Regions from separate parts of the Homo sapiens genome. Here region 1 is linked to region 2. The links come from fine-mapping of genetic effects on gene expression. A gene starts in region 2. The other region holds a variant in brackets. All regions are shown on one strand. Distances are from middle to middle.

Evidence for each region. PIP is the estimated chance that this variant, and not a neighbour inherited with it, causes the effect.
Region 1: its variant is fine-mapped to the expression of TPST1 in whole blood (INTERVAL, PIP 0.97).

Annotation. Positions count from the first base shown.
Region 1 is chr7:66,852,127-66,862,401 of GRCh38, reverse strand. It overlaps the pseudogene GTF2IP23. Among named protein-coding and RNA genes, the nearest start is that of LINC02604, 47 kb to the left of the region's middle. RefSeq lists an enhancer at 2,358-2,417. The variant A/T (reference allele first, on the strand shown) is at 5,587.
Region 2 is chr7:66,201,013-66,211,287 of GRCh38, reverse strand. It overlaps TPST1 (tyrosylprotein sulfotransferase 1), which reads right to left and starts at 5,954. Exons shown (of 6, transcript NM_003596.4): 1 at 5,766-5,954. RefSeq lists silencers at 5,552-5,911, 6,062-6,331.

The DNA of each region.
Region 1 (10,275 bases), 650 kb before region 2:
ATCACTTGAACTCAGGAGGCAGAGGTTCCAGTGAACCAAGATCACACTACTGCACTCCAGCCTGGGTGACAACAAAACTCCGTCTCAAAAAATATATATATATGTGTGTGTGTGTGTGTGTGTGTATATGTGTGCGTATATATGTGTGTGTATACATATATACACACATGCACACATATACACACACATATATATACACACACATATATATACACATATATATATATATATAACACCTTCTTGACCTATGATCAAAGTTCCTTCTAAACTCAATTTGGGGCACCATATATCACAAACCAGATGGCAAGAAATTAGATAAATTTTAGTTGTTTTCATGCCATCCCAATCACATCTTAATCAGTTCACAAACATGTTTCAGCAAATGCTGGAGGAGTTTTTCTCTCTTTAGGAGTCCTCTCTCACTTTACCCTGCTTAATAAAAGACCTCACACACTTACAAACAGGATAGAGACAGGCCAGCTTCAGGACATGCTGCATGGGGAGAACTGACTGTCCCAAAAAGAGAGGGCTCTACACCCCTCTGAACTCCACAATAGACCGGCTACACACAAATGCCTGAAGTAAGGCAGTCCCCTCAGGAAAATGAACAGTTGGCAAGATCAAGACTTCTGGCCCAAAGGGCCTGCAGCTGGTCTGACCATTCATCAAAAAATCTGAATTTAAATGGAGATATATTGGACTGTCACATGCAATAAAAGAACTGAAGCAGCAAATGGTCTTGATTTGGGTTTCCTTCCACCCTACACGGCTCCAGCAAACAGAGGAGTGAGTATGCCTGCGGTGCTCCTGACACATCTAGGGTAGTTCCTATTCACAGTGGTCAACCTTTGGGATTTTCCACACATCGCAGGGTCATTGTCGATGCCCCTGGGTAAAGTGTAGTAGCCTCAACCTCCTGGGCTCAGGCAATCCTCCTACCTCAGCCTCCTAAGTAGCTGAGACTACAGGTACATGCCACCATACCTGGCTAATTGCTAAATTTTTTTGCAGAAATGGGGTCTCACTCTGTTGCCCAGGCTGGTCTCAAACTCCTGGCCTGAAGCCATCTTCCTGCCTCAGCCTCTCAAAGTGCTGGAATTCCAGGCATGAGCCATTGTGCCCGGTCAAGTTTAGCTGATTCTTTTACCATGCTCAATTTCCAAAAAACACAGGAGGGCAGAGGTGGGGCCTCTCATGCAGATCCTCCTTCTCAGGCGTCATCTCCTAGTGACATCCTCCTTCTCAGGTGTCATGAATCTTAGTAACATTATGGTGGCATCGCTAATGATAAACAATTTTCACCACCTGATCTATTTTATTACATCACTTGGAAACATAATGACTTAAAGAGTGGGAAAGATTATTTAGTTTATGGATCACTGGCTGATTTACAGTCAGATATAAGGAGAGATAAAATATCACAAAAAATGCTGATGAGAAGAAACTTAACATTTTGACTTTGTTCAATACATTAAGTTCTTAGAGACGTAAAATAGGATAAGTAGTTCAAAAACTAAGTACACAAATTCTGCAAATAACATACAATTAGTGACCTAAGTTTGTAGTTGCCAACTGAGTAGCACCTAGAAGCTGGTCTCTGAAGACTCAGTGAGTGCCATGCACCCCGCTTCAAATCCATAGGGAGGGCAGGACTCCTAACCCAGGAGACTTGGCTTCTGTGCACTAAAACTCAAAGGGTCTGTTTCAGGAGAAGATGAGGGCCCCAGGGTCATGGGAACATGGATCCCCACTGCAGCCTTCCTTGCTCAGGACAGCTTGCGGCCCTTCCAGATGTGGTGCCTGCAGTCCCTCCTGCGCCCTTAAGTGTCACAATGCATGCTACATGGCCAAAAGCCACAGACATTTCTGCCAGCTTAGAGAACAGTTTATTGCCATGGATTCACTCTGTGAGTATTTGTTGAGCACCTGCTTGAGAAGTAAACAGGACAGGCATGATCTGCGCTGTCAGCACTACTGTACTACAGTGGGAGGAAAAAGTCAGCCAGCAGGGCTTTGTGAAAAATGAAAGGAGGATGAGTCAGTGAGCCTCACAGCTGAGGTGAGACGGTGCTCAGTGAAGACCTCTCCAACATGGTGACATTTAAACTGTGACACAAATAGAAATGAGAGGCACAGAAAGCCCTCAAGTAAGAGCATTCCACAAACACCAGGCCTCAGCCCGACAGCGCCAGGAGGCTGTGACCTGAGAGGAAGAAAGGCACACAAATGACCATGGTGGCTGGCACAGAGCAAGTGATCCACAGAGGGGATGCAGGAAAGCAGAGAAATGGCAGGAAGCAGCTCCCCCACGCCCCTGCAGAACCCATCAGGGGCTGTGAGGTTTACTCCAAGTATAGTGAAAGCCACTACAGATGACAGTCCAGAGAATGACAGGCTCCACCTCCTACTTTCAATGAACTGACCTGGCTGCGCTGTGGCATGACTCCCACTGAGAGCTGGAGGGCAGTGAAGGAGGATGGGGTAGGATCTGAGCTTTCTGTTCAGGGCGGAGTCAGGAGGCCTTGCTAGGCTGGATGTGGGAAGGCAGGAAATCACACCTCAGCGTAACTCCTGGGCATCTGGCTTGGGCAGCTGGTAGACCCTGAGAGGAGCTCCTGAAAAGGGGAATGGAGACTCTGCCTGGGACACATGAGGTCTGAGGAGGAATCAAACAGGTAGGCAAATACAAAGGTCTAGTACGAGGGGCATCTTCAGGGCCAGAAATGAGAGTCTCAATGACACAGACAATATAATATTTTTAAGAAGTGGGCAGGGTGGGATTGTCTGTAAAGAAGACACAGTAAGAAAAAAGAAAGAGGGCTCAGGGTGAAGCTGCTGGCTGGCACTCCCCAGTGTAGAGAGGATAAGGGCAGGGGCCTCAAGAGACTGAAAATGAGACAGGGAGGAGCCAAGCAAGAGCCCACAAGGTTTGAAAATTTCCATAAAAATAGTTTTTAAAAGAGTATTGGGGAGCAGGTGACAACAACCTAGAATTCTGCTGAGAAGCAGAATAAAAGTGGGGCAGACAGTGACTTTGGGAGGCAAAAGATGTTGTAGGAAATATCAAAACTAAGTATTTGAGGTGTTGATGAAGTGTCTAAGGAGCAAGACAGAAAAGAGAGCTTCGCTGAGGCTTCATCTTCAAATGCAGTGGTGGCTGCTGTCAAAGCTCTCTCTGTTACCGCAGAGCGGCACCCAGGCACAAGTACAGCCCAATAAAAAGGATTCCCAACAGTCTCACTCTTCGTGCATAAAACCCTTGACTGTACAGAAAAATGTACTCAGTAAAAAGCATATGGGTTTCCATTACCTGACTCTCTCTCCTGTTATGACTAAAACTTTAATAATGAGTGCACATTAAAAACAGTAAGACGGCCGGGCATGGCAGCTCACGACTATAATCCCACCACTTCAGTGGGTCGAGGCAGGTGGATCACCTGAGATCAGGAGTTCGAGACTAGCCTGACCAACGTGGTGAAACCCCATCTCTACTAAAAATACAAAAATTAGGCAGGCCTGGTGGCAGCTGCCTGTAATCCCAGCTACTTGGGAGGCTGAGCCAGGGAGAATTGCTCGAACCTGGGAGAAAGAGGTTGCAGTGAGCTGAGATGATGCCAGTGCACTCCAGTGTGGGTGACAGAGCAAGACTCCATCTCAAAAACAAACAAACAAACAAACAAAAAAACAGAAGGTGCCATTTGCTATGGGGAGACTAGGGATATGATCTTGCTGCAATCCTTCCATTTTAGTAAATCTAAAGAGTGTAATTCCATTCTGTTTTGTCCCCACTCCACTCCAGAGCCAAAACTAGTAAGAAAATCAATTCTATTTCTATTTCTTTCAAAACACATCTAACAATAAGAGATGATATGCACAGCTCCATACTATAAAAGAAAAACTTATGTCCTGGGTATCATAGACATTTGATGAATGTTTGTTCAGGTGACTGGTGTAGACTTCAATAATAACCCGTTCAATGCATTATGCCAGATAAAATCTTGCATCTCAAAAGTAGGACAAACATTGTTCTTTTAGTTCTGTCTACCCATAAATGCAATATTTACATGTATTTATAATGGGTTAATAAAAAGAAAATGAGTTTACTGTTCTAGAGAGTATTAGAATTTTGAAAATATGAATTCTCCTGTCCTAGCACATAATTGTTAGAGGCATATTATTTAATATGGAAGGCATCATTAAAAAATGTTAAGCATTAGGTAATTATTGCACATAATCTTTTAATCTGACTTAAGACTGAATGCCTACCTCCTGAAGCTGGTTTGTCAAGCTGTAAATCTTCATGTGTTGAATTCATAAGTTCATGTCTGAAAGGTAAGAATAAATACTTAATATTCACTAGGCAATATTCAGCAAAGTAATATCCACTAGTACATATTTCACATTTAATCACCAAGGGTGGTTTTGAAAAGACAAGGCAGGCTGGGCATGGTGGCTTATGCCTGAAATCCCAACACTTTGGAAGGCAGAGGCAGGCAGATCACGAGGTCAGCAGTTTGAGACAAGCCTGGCCAACATGGTGGCACCCCATCTGTACTAAAATCACAAAACTCAGCTGGGCGTGGTGGTAGGTGCCTGTAATCCCAGCTACTCAGGAGGCTGAGACAGGATAATTGCCCGAACCCAGGAGGTGGAAGTTGCAGTGAGTCGAAATCATGCCACTGCACTCCAGCCTGGGTAATAGAAAGAGACTCCATCTTGGAAAAAAAAAAAATTAAGAAAAGACAATCTGGATGATTGAGCACAACTAAATCTTCATTTGAGGTTTCTACAGAGTAACGAAACAAAATAATATTGTAAATTGTCTCATAAGCTGCTTCATGGAGCATGTGTTCTCACAAGTAAAGTGGTAACTCTGCAACCCACAGGTCTTTGAAGCATATTACAAAAATCTTAAATGGGATCCTTTAATATCACATTGCATTCAAGACTATCTTCCTCTACACAACTAGAAAAACAATCATATATTCCCACATATGCCACAAAAATCTCAGGCCTAAAAACAAGACACGGATACTATTTTCTTTAGCAAAAGTAGCAGAAAACTGTGAAAGAAAATGTCAGTTGCATGCTAGTCAGGTGTGGGCAGTGTTCATGTTTCAAAAGCTAACACTGGCACGACTGACTCAATGTTGGACCCAGATATATTAAAAAGTGGAAGATAAAAATACTTAAAATAGGCCGGGTGCAGTGGCTCACATCTGTAATCCCAGCACATTGGGAGGCTGAGGTAGGTGGATCACCTGAGGTCAGGAGTTTGAGACCTGACCAACATGGAGAAACCCTGTCTCTAGTAAAAATACAAAATTACCTGGGCTTGGTGGGACATGCCTGTAATCCCAGCTACTCAGGAGGCTGAGGCAGAATCACTTGAACCTGGGAGGCAGAGGTTGCAGTGAGCCGAGATCACACCATTGCACTTTAGCCTGGGCAACCAGAGAGAAACTCCATCAAAAAAAAAAAAAACCCCATAATATAAGTCAAACTTAAGTAAATATAACCGTAGTGGTAAATATTTGTCAACAATAAAAAAGATGTATTACTCACAAGAGAGATAAGAGTCAAATA[A/T]GAATCCAGGAGTCTTACTTTTTAATCACAAAACAAATCCTTTCCATTGCAAGTAATATCCTCTCAAAGCCAGGAATTCTGTAAGTGGATAGCCTTCCTAAAAAAATTTCTGGTGGGGCAAAGTGGCTCATGCCTGAATCCCAGCAATTTGGGAGGCCAAGGCGGGTGGATGATGAAGTCAGGATTACCAGACAAGCCTGGCTAACATAGTGAAACCCTGTCTTGGCCAGGCACGGTGGCTCACACCTGTAATCCCAGCACTTTGGGAGGCTGAGGCAGGTGGATCACGAGGTCAAGAGATCGAGACCATCCTGGCTAACACGGTGAAACCCCATGTCTACTAAAAGTACAAAAAATTAGCCGGGTGTGGTGGCGGGCGCCTATCGTCCCAGCTACTTGGGAGGCTGAGGCAGGAGAATGGCGTGAACCCGGGAAGCGGAGCTTGCAGTGAGCCGAGATCGTGCCACTGCACTCCAGCCTGGGCAACAGAGCGAGACTCCGTCTCAAAAAAAAGAAACCCCATCTCTACTAAAAATACAAAAAAATTAACCAGGCATGGTGACTTGCGCCTGTAGTCCCAGCTACTCAGGAGACTGAGGCAAGTGAATCACTTGAATCCAAGAGGCGGAGGTTGCAGTGAGCCGAGATTGCTCCACTGCACTCCAGTCTGGGCACAGAGCAAGACTGTGTCTCAAAAACAAAAACAAAAACAACAACAACAAAAATTCCTGGCCTAGCGTAGTGGTTCATGCCTGTAATCCCAGCACTCTGGGAGGCTGAAGCAGGAGGATCACCTGAGTTCAGCAGTTCCAGACCAGCCTGGCCAACATGGTGAAACCCCATCTCTATTAAAAATACAAAATTAGCCTGGTGTAGTGGCGGGCGCCTGTAATCCCAGGTACTCAGGAGACTGAGGCAAGAGAATCGCTTGAACCCAGGAGGCAGAGGCTGCAGTGAGCTGAGATCACAGCATTGTACTGCAGCCTAGATCATGCCATTGCACTCCAGCCTAGGCGACAAGAGTAAAAACTCTGTCACAAAAAAAAAAAAAAAAAAAAAATTCCTGTGGGGAAGGCCTTCTACATAAAGATCTTCAGCTTGAGACTGGAAAAAAGGGGTGGACCTTTGGCTTTTACAGCTTGAGCTATAAAGACAAAAAGAAAAAAGCGTATCATTTAAACACAATATGTAGAAAAGAATAATTATTGAATCTGTATTGCTCTTTAATTTTTATAATTTGATCTTTACTTCTGTTACTGTAATTGAGTCCAAAGAAAAATATTATGAGTAAAATAAAAACACCACCAAAAATGCTAATGTTCTGTTCATCAAAGTCTGCAGTGAAATATCCCATTACAGATAAGTGCAGTGACTCACACCTGTAATCCCAGCACTTTGGGAGGCCAAGAAAGGTGAATCAACTGAGGTCAGGAGTTCGAGACCAGACTAGCAAACATGGTGAATCCACGTCTCTACTAAAAATAAAAACGTAGCCAGGCAAGGTGGCAGGCACCTGTAATCCCAGCTACTCAGGAGGCTGAGGCAGGAGAACTGCTTGAACCCAGGAGGCAGAGGCTGCAGTGAGCTGAGATCACAGCATTGTACTCCAGCCTAGGCAACAAGAGCAAAACTCAATCTCAAAAAAAAAACAAACAAAAAAAAAACAGTAAGAGAATTGTGGAGCTGATGGAGCTGAGTCCTACTCATTGTATTTACTTTCCTAAAATAAAACAACATTATAAAAAAACATATGACCAGGCGCAGTGGCTCATGCCTGTAATCCCAACACTTTGGGAGGCCAAGGTGGGAGGCTCACCTAAGGTCAGGAGTTTGAGACCAGCCTGGCCAACATGGTGAAACCCCAACTCTACTACAAATGCAAAAATTACGCAGACCTTTTGGCAGGTGCCTGTGATGCCAGCTACTTGGGAGGCTGAGCCAGGGAGAATTGCCTGAACCTGGGAGATGGATGTTGCAGTGAGCTGAGATCACGCCACTGCACTCCAGTGTGGGTGACAGAGCAAGACTCCATCTCAAAAAAAAAAAGAAAAGAAAACAGCTAGCAGGTGCCATTTGCTATGGGGAGACTAGGGATATGATCTTGCTGCAATCCTTCCATTTTAGTAAATCTTAACAGTGTGATTCCATTCTGTTTTGTCCCCATTTCACTCCAGAGGCAAAACAAGTAAGAAAACCAATTCTATTTCTATTTCTTTCGAAACACATCTAAACAATTAAGAGATGATATGCATGGCTCTATACTCTAAAAGGAAACATTCTTGTGTCCTGGGTATCATGGACATTTCATGAATGCTTGTTCAAGTGACTGGTGTAGACTTCAATAATAACCTGTTCAATGCATTATGCCAGATAAATCTTGCATCTCAAAAGTAGGCCAAATTTTGTTCTTTTAGTTCTGTCTACCCATAAATGCAACATTTACATGTATTTATAATGGGTTAAAAAAAGAAAATGAGTTCACTGTTTTAGAGAGTATTAGAATTTTAACAAATGAGGCCGGGCGGGGTAGCTCTGACCTGTAATCCCAGTACTTTGGGAGGCCGAGATGGGTGGATCATCTTAGGTTGGGAGTATGAGACTAGCCTGACAAACATGGAGAAACCCCAACTCTATTAAAAATATCCGGGTGTGGCAGCGCATGCCTGTAATCTCAGCTACTCAGTAAGCTGAGGCAGGAGAATTGCTTGAACCCAGGAGGCAGAGGTTGCATGAGCCTAGATTGTGCCACTGCACTCTAGCCTGGGCAACAAGAGCAAAACTCCGTCTCAAAAAGAAAAAAAAAAATTAAAAAAAAAAAAAGAATTTTGACAACATGAATTCTCCTGTCCTGGAACATAATTAATAGTTACAAGCATATTATTTCATGTGGAAGGTACCATTTTAAAAAAACAATGTCAAGCATTAAATAATTATTGCACATAATCTTTTTTTTTTTTTTTTTTGAGATGGAGTCTCACTCTGTCACCCAGGCTGGAGTGCAGTGGCGGGATCTCGGCTCACTGCAAGCTCCGCCTCCCAGGCTCATGCCATTCTCCTGCCTTAGCCTCCCGAGTAGCTGGGACTACAGGTGCCCACTACGATACCCGTCTAAGTTTTTGTACTTTTAGTAGAGATGGGGTTTCATCCTGTTAGTCAGGATTGTCTCGATCTCCCGACCTCATGATCCACCCACCTCGGCCTCCCAGAGTGCTGGGATCACAGGTGTGAGCCACCACGGCCAGCCTGCACATAATCTTCTAATCTGACTCAAGACTGAAGACCTACCTCCTGAAGCTGGTTTATCAAGCTGTAAATCTTCATGTCTTAAATCCATAAGTTCATGTCTGAAAGGTGAGACTACTTAATATTCACTAGGCAATATTCAGCGAAGTAACATCCACTAGTACATATTTAACATTGAATCACCAAGGATGGTTTTGAAAAGACAAGACAGGCTGGGCATGATCGCTCACCTGTAATCCCAGCACTTTGGGAGGCCGAGACTGGCAGATCACAAGGTCAGGAGTTGTAGACCAGCCTGGCCAACATGGTGAAACACTGTCTCTACTAAAAATACAAAAATTAGCTGTGTGTGGTGGCAGGTGCCTGTAATCCCAACTACTCGGGAGGCTGAAGCAAGAGAATTGCTTGAACTCAGGAGGTGGAGGCTACAGTGAGCCAAGGTCATGCCACTGCACTTCAACCTGGGTGACAGAGCAAGAGTCCATCTCAGGGAAAAAAAAAATTAAGAAAAGACAATCTGGATGCTTGAGTGCAACTAAACCTTCATTTGAGGTTTCTACAGAGTAACAAAACAAAATAATAATTGTAAAATGTCTCATAAGGTGCTTCATGGAGCATGTGTCCTCACAAGTGACCTACTTTACAACCTACAGGTCTTTGAAGCATATTACAAAAATCTTAAATGGGATCCTTTAATATCACATTGCATTCAAGACTATCTTCCTCTACACATCTAGAAGAACAATCATGTATTCCCATATATGGTATAAAAATCTCAGGTCTAAAAGCAAGACATGGATACTATTATTTTTAGCAAAAGTAGCAGAAAATTGTGAAAGAAAATGTCAGTTGCATGCCAGTCAGGTGCGGGCAGTGTTCATGTTTCAAAAGCTAACACTGGCATGACTGACTCAATGTTGGACCCAGACAAATTAAAAAATGGTAGATAAAAATACATATAATACGCCGGGCGCGGTGGCTCAAGTCTGTAATCCCAGCACTTTGAGAGTCCGAGGCAGGTGGATCACAAGCTCAGGAGTTCAAGACCAGCCTAGCCAATAATGGTAAAACCCCGTCTCTGCTAAAAATACAAAAATCAGCTGGGCATGTTGGTAGGCACCTGTACTCCCAGCTACTCGGGAGGCTGAGGCAGGAGAATTGCTTAAAGCTGGGAGGTAGAGGTTGCAGTGAGCCAAGATTGAGCCACTGCCCTCCAGCCTGGGCTACAGAGCAAGACTCCGTCTCAAAACAACAACAACAAAAAACATAAAATAACTCAAACAATTAAATATAACCCTAGTGGTGAATGAATATTTGTCAACAATAACAAAGATATATTACTAAGAACAGAGATAGGAGTCCAACAAGAACCCAAGAGTCTTACTTTTTAATCACAAAATGAATCCTTTCCTTTGCAAGGAATTCCATAAGTAGATAGCCTTCTTA
Region 2 (10,275 bases):
TGGTGCATGCCTGCAATCTCAGCTACTCAGGAGGCTGAGGCAGGAGAATTGCTTCAACCTGGGAGGCGGAGGTTGCGGTGAGCCAAGATCGCGCCATTGCACTCCAGCCTGGGCAACAAGAGCGAAACTCCATCTCAAAAAAAAAATAAAAATAAAATAAAAATAAAAATGGACCCAGCAGATATAATTTAAATAAAATGTGATAACTCCTTTAATAGGTAAATGTACACAGTACCAGGAAAGCAAGAAACTATGTCAACAAAGGCAATATTTATCCTGGTGTGTGTGTGTGTGTGCGCGCGCGTGTGTGTGGCAGACAGACAGACGGTCTCACTCTGTCACTCAGGCTGGAGAGCAATGGCATGATCATAGCTCACTGCAGCCTCAAACTCCTGGGCTCAAGCAATCCTCCTGCCTCAGCCTTCTACATGGCTGGAACTACAGGCATGTGCCATCACATGTGCCTGGCTAGTTTTTTCCTATTTTGTAGAGACAGGGATCTTGCTATGTTGCCCAGGCTGATCTCAAACTCCTGGTCTCAAGCAATCCTCCCACCTCAATCTGCCCAAACTCTGGGATTACAGGTGTGAGCCACCACACCCAGCTGTCCTGATATTTAAAGGATGAGTTACTACTATTGTTCTTCAGGGTTCTATCACTCCCTCTTTGGGCTCTCAGCCCAGTTCTCAGTCCTAGATACCTATCACCATCTCATGGGAAGCATCTTTAAAGTAACAAGGTCTGGCCCTGCACCAGACCAAATGATACAGAATCCCTGTGGATGCCTCGATCCCCCATCCTCATTCTTTAAAAGCTCCCCAGGTGGTTTTTAAGTAGTGCCTATGTTGAAAATCACTGAACCAGGCAATCTCACCTACTTCTGATGACTTCACTTTCAATTCTAGCACAGACCCTCCATATATATCTCCATCTTTAGGGCCAACTGCTCTCTCAGGCGATTTCCTGGGCATCAAGATGTTATCATTGGCTTCCTCCTTTTCCCTCAAAATTTGTTTATTTTCCTGTATTTCCTACCTGGATGAACAGAACCACCATTACCCAGACACCCAAGCCTGAACTCAGTATGTCATCCTTGACCCTTCCTTCTCCCTCTCTCTCACCTATACACCTAACCAGTTCTCCTTACTCCACAAATTCACTCCCAAATCTAACCCCTTAGCCTCACTGGCCTCATTATCTTTCACCTACATTCCTATAATGACCACCTATTGGTCTTTGTGCACCTAGTCTTGCCCCTCTCTAACCTGTTCTCTACAATGCTACCAGAGATCAGAGTAATTTTTCTGAAAATACACCTGGGGCCAGGCGCAGTGACTCACACCCATAATCCCAACACTTTGGGAAGTCAAGGCAGAGGGTTACCTGAAGCCAGGAGTTCAAGACCAATCTGGGCAACATAGCAAGACTCCCATCTCTAGAAAAATAAATAAACATAATCAAAATATACCTGGTCACAATACTCATTCATGTTACCTGCCAGAGTAGGGGATGCAGACATGAATCAAAACCCATCCTGATTTCAAAGCCCTACCCTTAGAGTAGAGAAAGACATGTAAACAAGTAAATGACAGTAGAGATGAAGAGACATGGATTGCAGGCAGATGTGGGAATGCTTTACTGCAGAGATAACCAGAAGCCTGTATAATCTACAGGTGGCTAAGTGGGAAAACGCATTCCACGGAGAAAGAGAAACATAAAGCCATTTAGGCATGTTCAGGTAATAGAGGTGATTTTATATGGCTGAGGCAAAAGGCAAGGCATGCAGCAAGACACAAAGCCTGAGATGGGAACAAGCCAGACTTTGTAAGATCTGCCCAGGAAGAAATCCTTCAAAGGTTCCTCGCTATCATCAGGATTATGTGTTAGGACACACAAGGTCATTCATGAGCGGCTCCCATATACCTTCCCAGCCTCATTGCTCATTATGCCCATTCTCCAGCCTTTCCAAATTACCAGTTCTTTCCCAAAAGCACCAGGTTATCACACATTTTTCTTTTTTCTTTAATTTTGAGATGGAGTCTCACTCTGCTGCCCAGGCTGGAGTCAGCTCACTGTAACCTCTGCCTCCCAGGTTCAAGCGATTCTCCTGCCTCAGCCTCCTGAGTAGCTGGGATTACAGGCGCCCACCACCACGCCCGGCTAATTTTTGTATTTTTAGTAGAGATGGGGTTTCACCATGTGGCCGGGCTGGTCTTGATGGTCTTGATCCGTCTGCCTCAGTCTCCCAAAATGCTGGGATTACAGGCGTGAGCCACCGCGCCTAGCCTAAGACACACTTTTCCATATGTTACCTTCTCTTCCAAACTGCCCATCTCCCCTTACCTTTCCTTGTCTAGATTCAGCTCTTCTGAAAACTTAGTTTACTGAGCACTATGTACTTGGCAATTTGCTAGAAACTGGAGATACAATGAGATATGACACAACTCTTTCTCTTAAAGGGTTCACTCTCAAGTCAGTGAGAAAAATAAGAAAACAGAACATTATAAATAGTAAAAATGGGCTGGGCACAGTGGCTCACGCCTGTAATCCCAGCACTTTGGGAGGCTGAGGCAGGCAGACTGCTTGAGGTCAGGAGTTTGAGACCAGCCTGTCCAACATGATGAAACCCTGTCTCTACTAAAAATACAAAAATTAGCTGGGTGTGGTGGCAGGCGCCTGTAATCCCAGCTACTCGGAAGGCTGAGGTACGAGAATCACTCAAACCCTGGAGGCAGAGGTTGCAGCGAACTAAGATGTTACCACTGCACTCCAGCCTGGGCAACAGACCAAGACTGTGTCACAAAAAAAAAACTAAAAATGGTATAAGTGGTAAAAATGGAGATGGAAGTATGTACAGGGTGCTGTGGAAACACAAAGAAAAGTCACCTAACCCAAACTAAGGAGGAGGGGTAGTCAGAAAAAGTCCTAGGTGCCTGTAGACAGAAACTTGTCCTCACTCTCACCAGGGTGATGCTCCCAGAGCACCCTGTAGTCATCTCTGTCACAGTCTTGATTTTACGGTAGTGAATGGTCTGTTTCTTTACTGCTTTTTTCTCTGGATCACAAAGGGCCCAGGAAGGGGATGCGCCCATGCTACAGAAGGCTTGGAAGGACTGGCTCAACATGCTAAGGGTTTGGGAGCTGATGAGAATTTTTAAAGAAAACAAGCAGCATGATCAGATTGATAGTTCAGAAATGGAACCAATTCCAGCAGCAACGTGGAGGATTAAGTAGACTACAGGACCCAGAGGTTCAGAAAAAGCATAACCAAGGTCTGAACCAGTCTTCTGGCAATGAAGAGAGAGAAAAAAAAAAGATGTTATGAAGAGAGGAAAAAAAAAGATCTGAGGTAGCAACAACAATAGGATCTATGCTAGACTTAATGTGAGGAGAAAAGAAGATGATTTTAAGGTTTCTAGAGTAAAGATCTTAAAATAGTAATGTTTGTATATGTGCTTAAAGGGGGCTATGGGTGGAGAGAAAGGGAAGGAAAAGGTAACCACATTTGAAGTAATCAAGCATCCACATACAGCTATGCAGTAGGCAGATGAAAATTAGAACCTGAGGTTCAAGAGAAACGGGGACTAAATAGACGTCTTTGAAAACCATAAATATATAGGTGCTATTTGAAGCCATGAAAGGAAGTGTAATCACACAAGGAAATTAGAGAAAAGAACAAAAATGAAACCCTAAGGAATGCCACGTTAATCTGAGAAGAATAAAAAAAGAAAAGGGAAGCATCAAGAAAAGCTTTGTTTTGGTCTGAATGGTGGAAACCTGAGGATGTATACCATCCAACAGAAAAAATAATAATATGGGAAGAGATCAAAGACGTTAGCTTTCGAAAGTAAGACCCCTCTTCTTCTGAGATCAGAGGAAAGGATATTAGAAATCAGGTACAGACAGGCACAGACAAAAATGACCTCTCCTTAAGAGTTCAGGGCTGATGCCCACCAATTTATTCTGTGAAGTTAAGTGGCAAAATAAGCAATGAAGAGAAGGCAAGAGTAGGACAAAGAGTCAGAGAAAAATGGTAAAGATCCATAAACAGCCATTTAGATTTTAGGACATAAGAGGAATCTAGAGGTTAAGTCAAAGGATCTCCAGGATCCAGAAGTGCAGAAACAGCACCCAGCAGTTTAGTTATATGATTTTTGCCAGTCTGCCTTGGGAGCCCAGGAGCAGAAAAAGCTGACTGATTCGTCCAGGCTTGAGACCATCAGAGCAAAGGTGGCAAGAATAGTACAGGGCCAATGACAATGCTTTTATCATTTTAAAAAGTCAAACGTATTTTACTCTTTTTTAAAAATCGACTCGCTATTTCCTCCAAGAGCGAGTGTTTGGAGAGGGGGAGGGAGAGGGGTGGATAATTCCTCTCTCACTCTTAGAGGACTTGTCAGAAGTTTCATTCTTAAGCATATTTGGTCTGTACAGCAGCTGATTCCAGGAAATCCAAATCCTGATTCCTCCTGGATCTTAAAAGATGAAAATTCATTGCAGCTCCCTGGACTATCCAGCTAATAGATAAACACGTACCACATTGCTTATATACTATGCCACTTTAGCTGGGAGGTAGGGGCTCTTTCTTTCCTAAAAAGAAAGTTACCCAAACACTGCAGATGGGGATGGAGAGGGGATGGGGAGTAATTACACCGCAAAGCCTGCTGACTAGCAGCCTAAGAATCCTTTACAAAGGCAATTAACATAAAACAATACATGGCACGGATAGCAGAATTGTTTCTTCTTAATGAATGCAGTAATTGACCATTTAATCGCTTTACTGGAGTTCACCAATTTCTCCTGCCATCTCCCATACCATTCTTCAGGCAGAGTCAAATCCCTGTGGACACTGGACTTCTTGCTACCATCATCTGGAAAGTACAAAACGCCTGGAAGGAGGAAGAGGCTAACATGCGTGACCACCCACCATGTGCCAGGCCTACTGTGTGCTAGACTCTGGGCAAGGGACTTTACATGTTATGGGGTGCAGCTCATGTAAGGACGAATGAAGATATTACACTATGGATCTGAGCCAGGCGCAGTGGCTCACGCCTGTAATCCCAGCACTTTGGAGGCCGAGGCAGAAGGATAGCTTGAGGTCAGGAGTTCGAAGCCAGCCTGGGCAACATAGAGACTCCATCTCTCAAAAAAAAAAAAAAAAAAAGCGATGAATCCGGCATTGCAGAGAGTGGGAAAGTGTCTGGAGGTTTAAGAGTAAGAGAAGGAAGAGGAGATTGCGATGGTGGGTGGTCAAAGTGAGGGGAGAAGAGGCGAGTTGGGAAAGGAAGGTGCTTAGGAGCAAAAGGGCAAGACCCAGGGACACCTGGAGCGGGGCGGGCGACTGCCATGCAGACAGGACTACGTACAACGGGTAGGATGATGGGGCGATGAGCTCAAGAAGCGCAGCCGGGGTAGACGTGGGGGCAAATGTCCGATCCCGGCGAGACGAGGGTCTCATCCCAGGGGACTGCGGGGCTAGGACGTGGTCCCAGGGCTGCGAGAAGGGAGAGAAAGGGCAGAGGGGAGAGGCCCCGGCGGCCGGGGCGAAGCCGAGCCCGGGAAATGCCGGCGATGGGGGAAGGGGCGTGGGAGCAGGGGCCGGACGGGCCAGACCCGGGGCTCCGCGCTCGGGGGCGGGGTTGGACAACCGGGAGGCACCGAGCAGAAGGCGACAAGGGGCCAAGGGATGCCAGGACGGGGCACAGGGCCGGGTGTGAGGAGACGAGAGGGGAGCGGAGCCGCAGCGAGCGCCGCGTCCCCCTTACCTGGGATGAGTGAGGAGCCGCCGCGCCGCCTGGACGGCATCCTGGCCTCAGCCGCTGGTCCCACCGCCTTCGGTGGGGGGCCACTCGGGAGCCCGCCCTCACCGCCAAGCGCCGGCAGCTGCCAGCCTGGACCGGCCCCGCAGAGCAGCGCCGTTCCGACCCGCAACCGAAGCCGCCTCAGCAGCGTCTCCCGCGGTCGCCAACTCAGCGACAACCGCCAGGGTCCGGGGAGGTGGCGGGATCACACATCTGCTACGATTGGCTGAGCGGACGATGTGTCGGCTGCTCTGATTCGTGAGTTCCGGCCGGCTGCCCACCGAAGGAGGCGCGGCTGGGAATGGAGCTGGGTCCGGCAGGCGCCGAGGGGCGGGGGTCTGACGTCGCAGCCGGCCAGCGCCCCCACAGCCCTTCCCGTGCGCGCTCCCGAGGGGGCTTCCCGGCAGCCGCAGGCCTGGCCGGGTGGTTGCCCTAGCAACAGCGCGCGTGGCCTGGCTGCAGGGGAGCCGCGGGCAGGTGGCGGTCCTCACCGCCCCCACCCCCAACGTGGGTGTCCCAGAGGCCTTCATCAGTGAAACCCTAGGACAGGAGAAGAAAATGAGCTTTTCCTGATAATTCCTCTCCTCTGCTTCAGAGCCCACCTTTGCCCGCTGCTGGCAGAGAAGCTGTCATCTCCTCGGGGAGATAACGCGCAAATGCAAATAACGAACTCAAACACTATTTCATCCCCACGAGAGTGTAGACGTGCAATAGTCCCTCCCAACCACAGAGGTGGGGGGCTGACGCCCTAAAAGAAAGAAATGAAAACTAGGGAGAAAAAGGCAAAGAAGCAAAAGAAAGGTGGGGAAAGGGCAGATATTTCACAAAATGATCCATTCATTTTACAGTTTCTTCCTACAGACACATCTACACCAGGTTCTGTCAAAGCAATTATTTCTACTCCAGTGACATGGATTAGAGAAGGCATGAGTGCAGAATCTAACAGCTGTATTCAAAATTGCTCTCTGCTAGGCCAGGTGGGGTGGCTCATGCCTCTAATCACAGCACTTTGGGAAGCCAAAGCTGGTGAATCACCTGAGGTCAGGAGTTCGAGACCAGCCTGGCCAACATAGTGAAACCCCGTCCCTGCTAAAAATACAAAAATTAGCCGGGCATGGTGGCGGACGCCTGTCGTCCCAGCTACTGGGGAGGCTGTGGCAGGAGAATTGCTTGAACCCGGGAAGGTAACTACCTTCCTTTGCACACAGTATAATATTTTCAAAGTTCATCCATGTTGTAGCATGTATCGGCACTTCATTCCTTGTTACGGCCGAATAATAGTCCATTATACAGACATCACCTTTTTTTTTTTTGAAGAGTCTCACTCTGTCTCCCAGGCTGGAGTGGAGTTATGTGATCTTGGCTCACTGCAACCTCCACCTCCTGGGCTCAAGTGATTCTCATGCCTCCGCCTCCAAAGTAGCTAGAATTACATGCATGTGCCACCATGCCTGGCTAATTTTTATATTTTTAGTAGAGACGGGGTTTCATCAAGTTGCCCAGGCTGATCTTGAACTCCTGGCCTCAAGTGATCTGCCTGCCTTGGCCTCCCAAAGTGCTGGGATTACAGGCATGGGCCACCGTGCCTGGCTGGACATCATCTTTTATTTATCCATTAATCCATTGATGGACATCTGTTTCTACTTTTTTGGCTATTATACATGATGCTGCTATGAACATTTGTGTAGAAGTTTTTGTGTGTGGCCGGGTGCAGTGGCTCACGCCTGTAATCCCAGCAGTTTGAGAGGCCGAGGTGGGCGGATCACAAGGTCAGGAGATCGAGACCATCCTGGTTAACACGGTGAAACCCCGTCTCTACTAAAAATACAAAAATTTAGCCAGGCATGGTGGCTGGCGCCTGTAGTCCCAGCTACTCGGGAGGCAGAGGCAGGAGAATGGCGTGAACCCGGGAGGTGGAGGTTGCAGTGAGCCAAGATTGTGCCACTGCACTCCAGCCTGGGCAACAGAGTGAGACTCCGTCTCAAAAAAAAAAAAAAAAAGAAGTTTTTGTGTGGACCTCATTTGATCTTTACAGCAACTGTCTAAGGTACATATGATATCTCCTTCTACAGATAATCAGCTGACTGGGTGTGGTGGCTCACGCCTGTAATCCCAGCAGTTTGGGAAACCCAGGCAGGAGGGTCCCGTGAGCCCAGGAGTTCTAGGCTGCAGTGAGCCATGATGGCACCACTGCACTCCAGCCTGGGTGACAGACTGAGACCTTGCCTCTCACCCAAAAAAAAAAATAATAATTATATATATGTGTGTGTGTGTGTGTGTTTGTGTGTATATGTGTGTGTGTGTATATATGTGTGTGGGTGTATACACACACACACACAGAGATAGATAAGAAAACTGACTATAAGATGGTAGACAGCAATTTTGTTGTTTGTTTGTTTTTGTTTTGAGATGGAGTTTCGCTCTTGTTGCCCAGGCTGGAGTGCAATGGTATGTATGACCTTGGCTCACTACAACCTCCGCCTCCCGAGTTCAAGTGATTCTTCAGCCTCAGCCTCCCCAGTAGCTGGGATTACAGGCGCCTGCCACCATGCCCAGCTAATTTTTTTGTAGTTTTATTAGAGACAGGGTTTTGCCATGTTGGCCGGGCTGGTCTCAAACTCCTGACCTCAGATGATCTGCCCGGCTCCACCTTCCAAAGTGACGGGATTACAGGTGTGAGCCACCGCGCCCACCTTTTGTTTTGTTTTTAGAGACAGGGTCTCACTATGTTGCCCAAGCTAGTCTCGAACTTCTGACCTCAAGCGATCCTCTAACCAGTCTTTTAATGTTAAGCAAGGGCCAAGTTACATTCTGCTTTCTACATTTCAGACCTCTTCAGGAAAAGGACTCACCATGGCCTCAGTAATACGGAAGCCACCACCGGTGCACAGCCCCTGCCAGGCTCTTTCCACAAAGTAGAGATGGAGATCTGAGATAACCTCCCACACTGCCCAGAAAATCCTTCCCCCACCTATAAGACCTAGAAAAAGAATTGAGTAGCCACATAGGGAGCTGACACTGGTCCTCCTAGCACGTATTAAACTGTGAGAACGAATTCTAGATGTGGGGAATTCAGTAAGAAGAAAGGACACGATCCTTTCAGTGAAACCTGTCATACGGCAGGATGTCTCACTGAGCAGGACAGCTTCAGGTGATCCGGGGACTACACTCTGAGGCAGAAGTAAGAAGCAGGGTCCAGCCTCTGACAGGGTCCAGCCTCTGAGGCAGAAGTAAGAAACAGCTTGATCTGAAGCAAAGCTCAGGGTTATTGAGAACAAGATGAACTTTTCCTGCTTTCTAAATCTGCCCCAACACATATAGTATATGTGCTAGAAGGAAAAAAAACTCCAAAATATACTCAAGTGAAAAGAACAAAGTTCAAAACAGTGTGTATAATATACCCATTTGTATATATTTAAAATACACATACACACACACTTGTTATTTTCAGAGGAAATATCAAGAAAGATGCACACATTAAATTGGTAACAGTGTTGTCTCTGGGAGGGAAACTGAAGGACTTGGGCACAGGAATAGGAAAGAGACTAATTCTTTGCTATGTACTCTTGGGCACCTTTAAAAATTATGTGCTATATGCTTGGATTACCTTTTTTTTTTTTTTTTCTTATTTTAATAGGCAGGGTCCCATTCTGTCACCCAGGCTGGAGTACAGTGGCATAGTCATAGCTCACTGCAGCCTCAAACGCCTGGGCTCAAGTGATCCTCCCACCTCAGCCTCCTGAGTAGCTAAGACTACGGGTGCACGCCACCCACTCCCTGCTAATTTTTTTTTTTTTAGACAGAGTCTCGCTCTGTTGCCCAGGCTGGTGTGCAGTGGCATGATATCGGCTGACTGCAACCTCTGCCTCCCAGGTTCAAGCAATTCTCCTGCATCAGCCTCTCGAGTAGCTGGGATTACAGGTGCCCACCACCACGCCCAGCTAATTTTTGTATTTTTAGTAGAGACAGGGTTTCACCATGTTGGCCAGGCTGGTCTCGAACTCCTGGCCTCATGTGATCTGCCCACCTTGGCCTCCCAAAGTGCTGGGATTTCAGGTGTAAGCCACCGTGCCCAGCCTTTTACTTTTTTTTTTTTTTTTTTTTTGGTAGAGATGGGATCTTGCTATGTTGCCCAAACTGGTCTTGAACTCCTGGGCTCAAGCAGTCCTCCAACGCTGGCCTCCCAAAGTGGTGGGATTATAGGCATGAGCCATCACGCCTGGCCTGGATTACCTATTTACAAGGAATGAATACATAACTTTTTTTTAAAGGAAAACTTGTTCCTGAAAAACTGTCCAAGACTGTATGCACATCTGATTCACACCACATTTCTATTCCTCTGTGTAATTTAATGAGCCTCATAGATTCTGAACACTCTTTCTGCGTTTCTATTTTCTCTCCCGGGCTTTACCTTTCCAGGTGATCAGCCCAGAATTAGATCACCTCACCAGAGAGCATCAGCCAGGTATGGTGG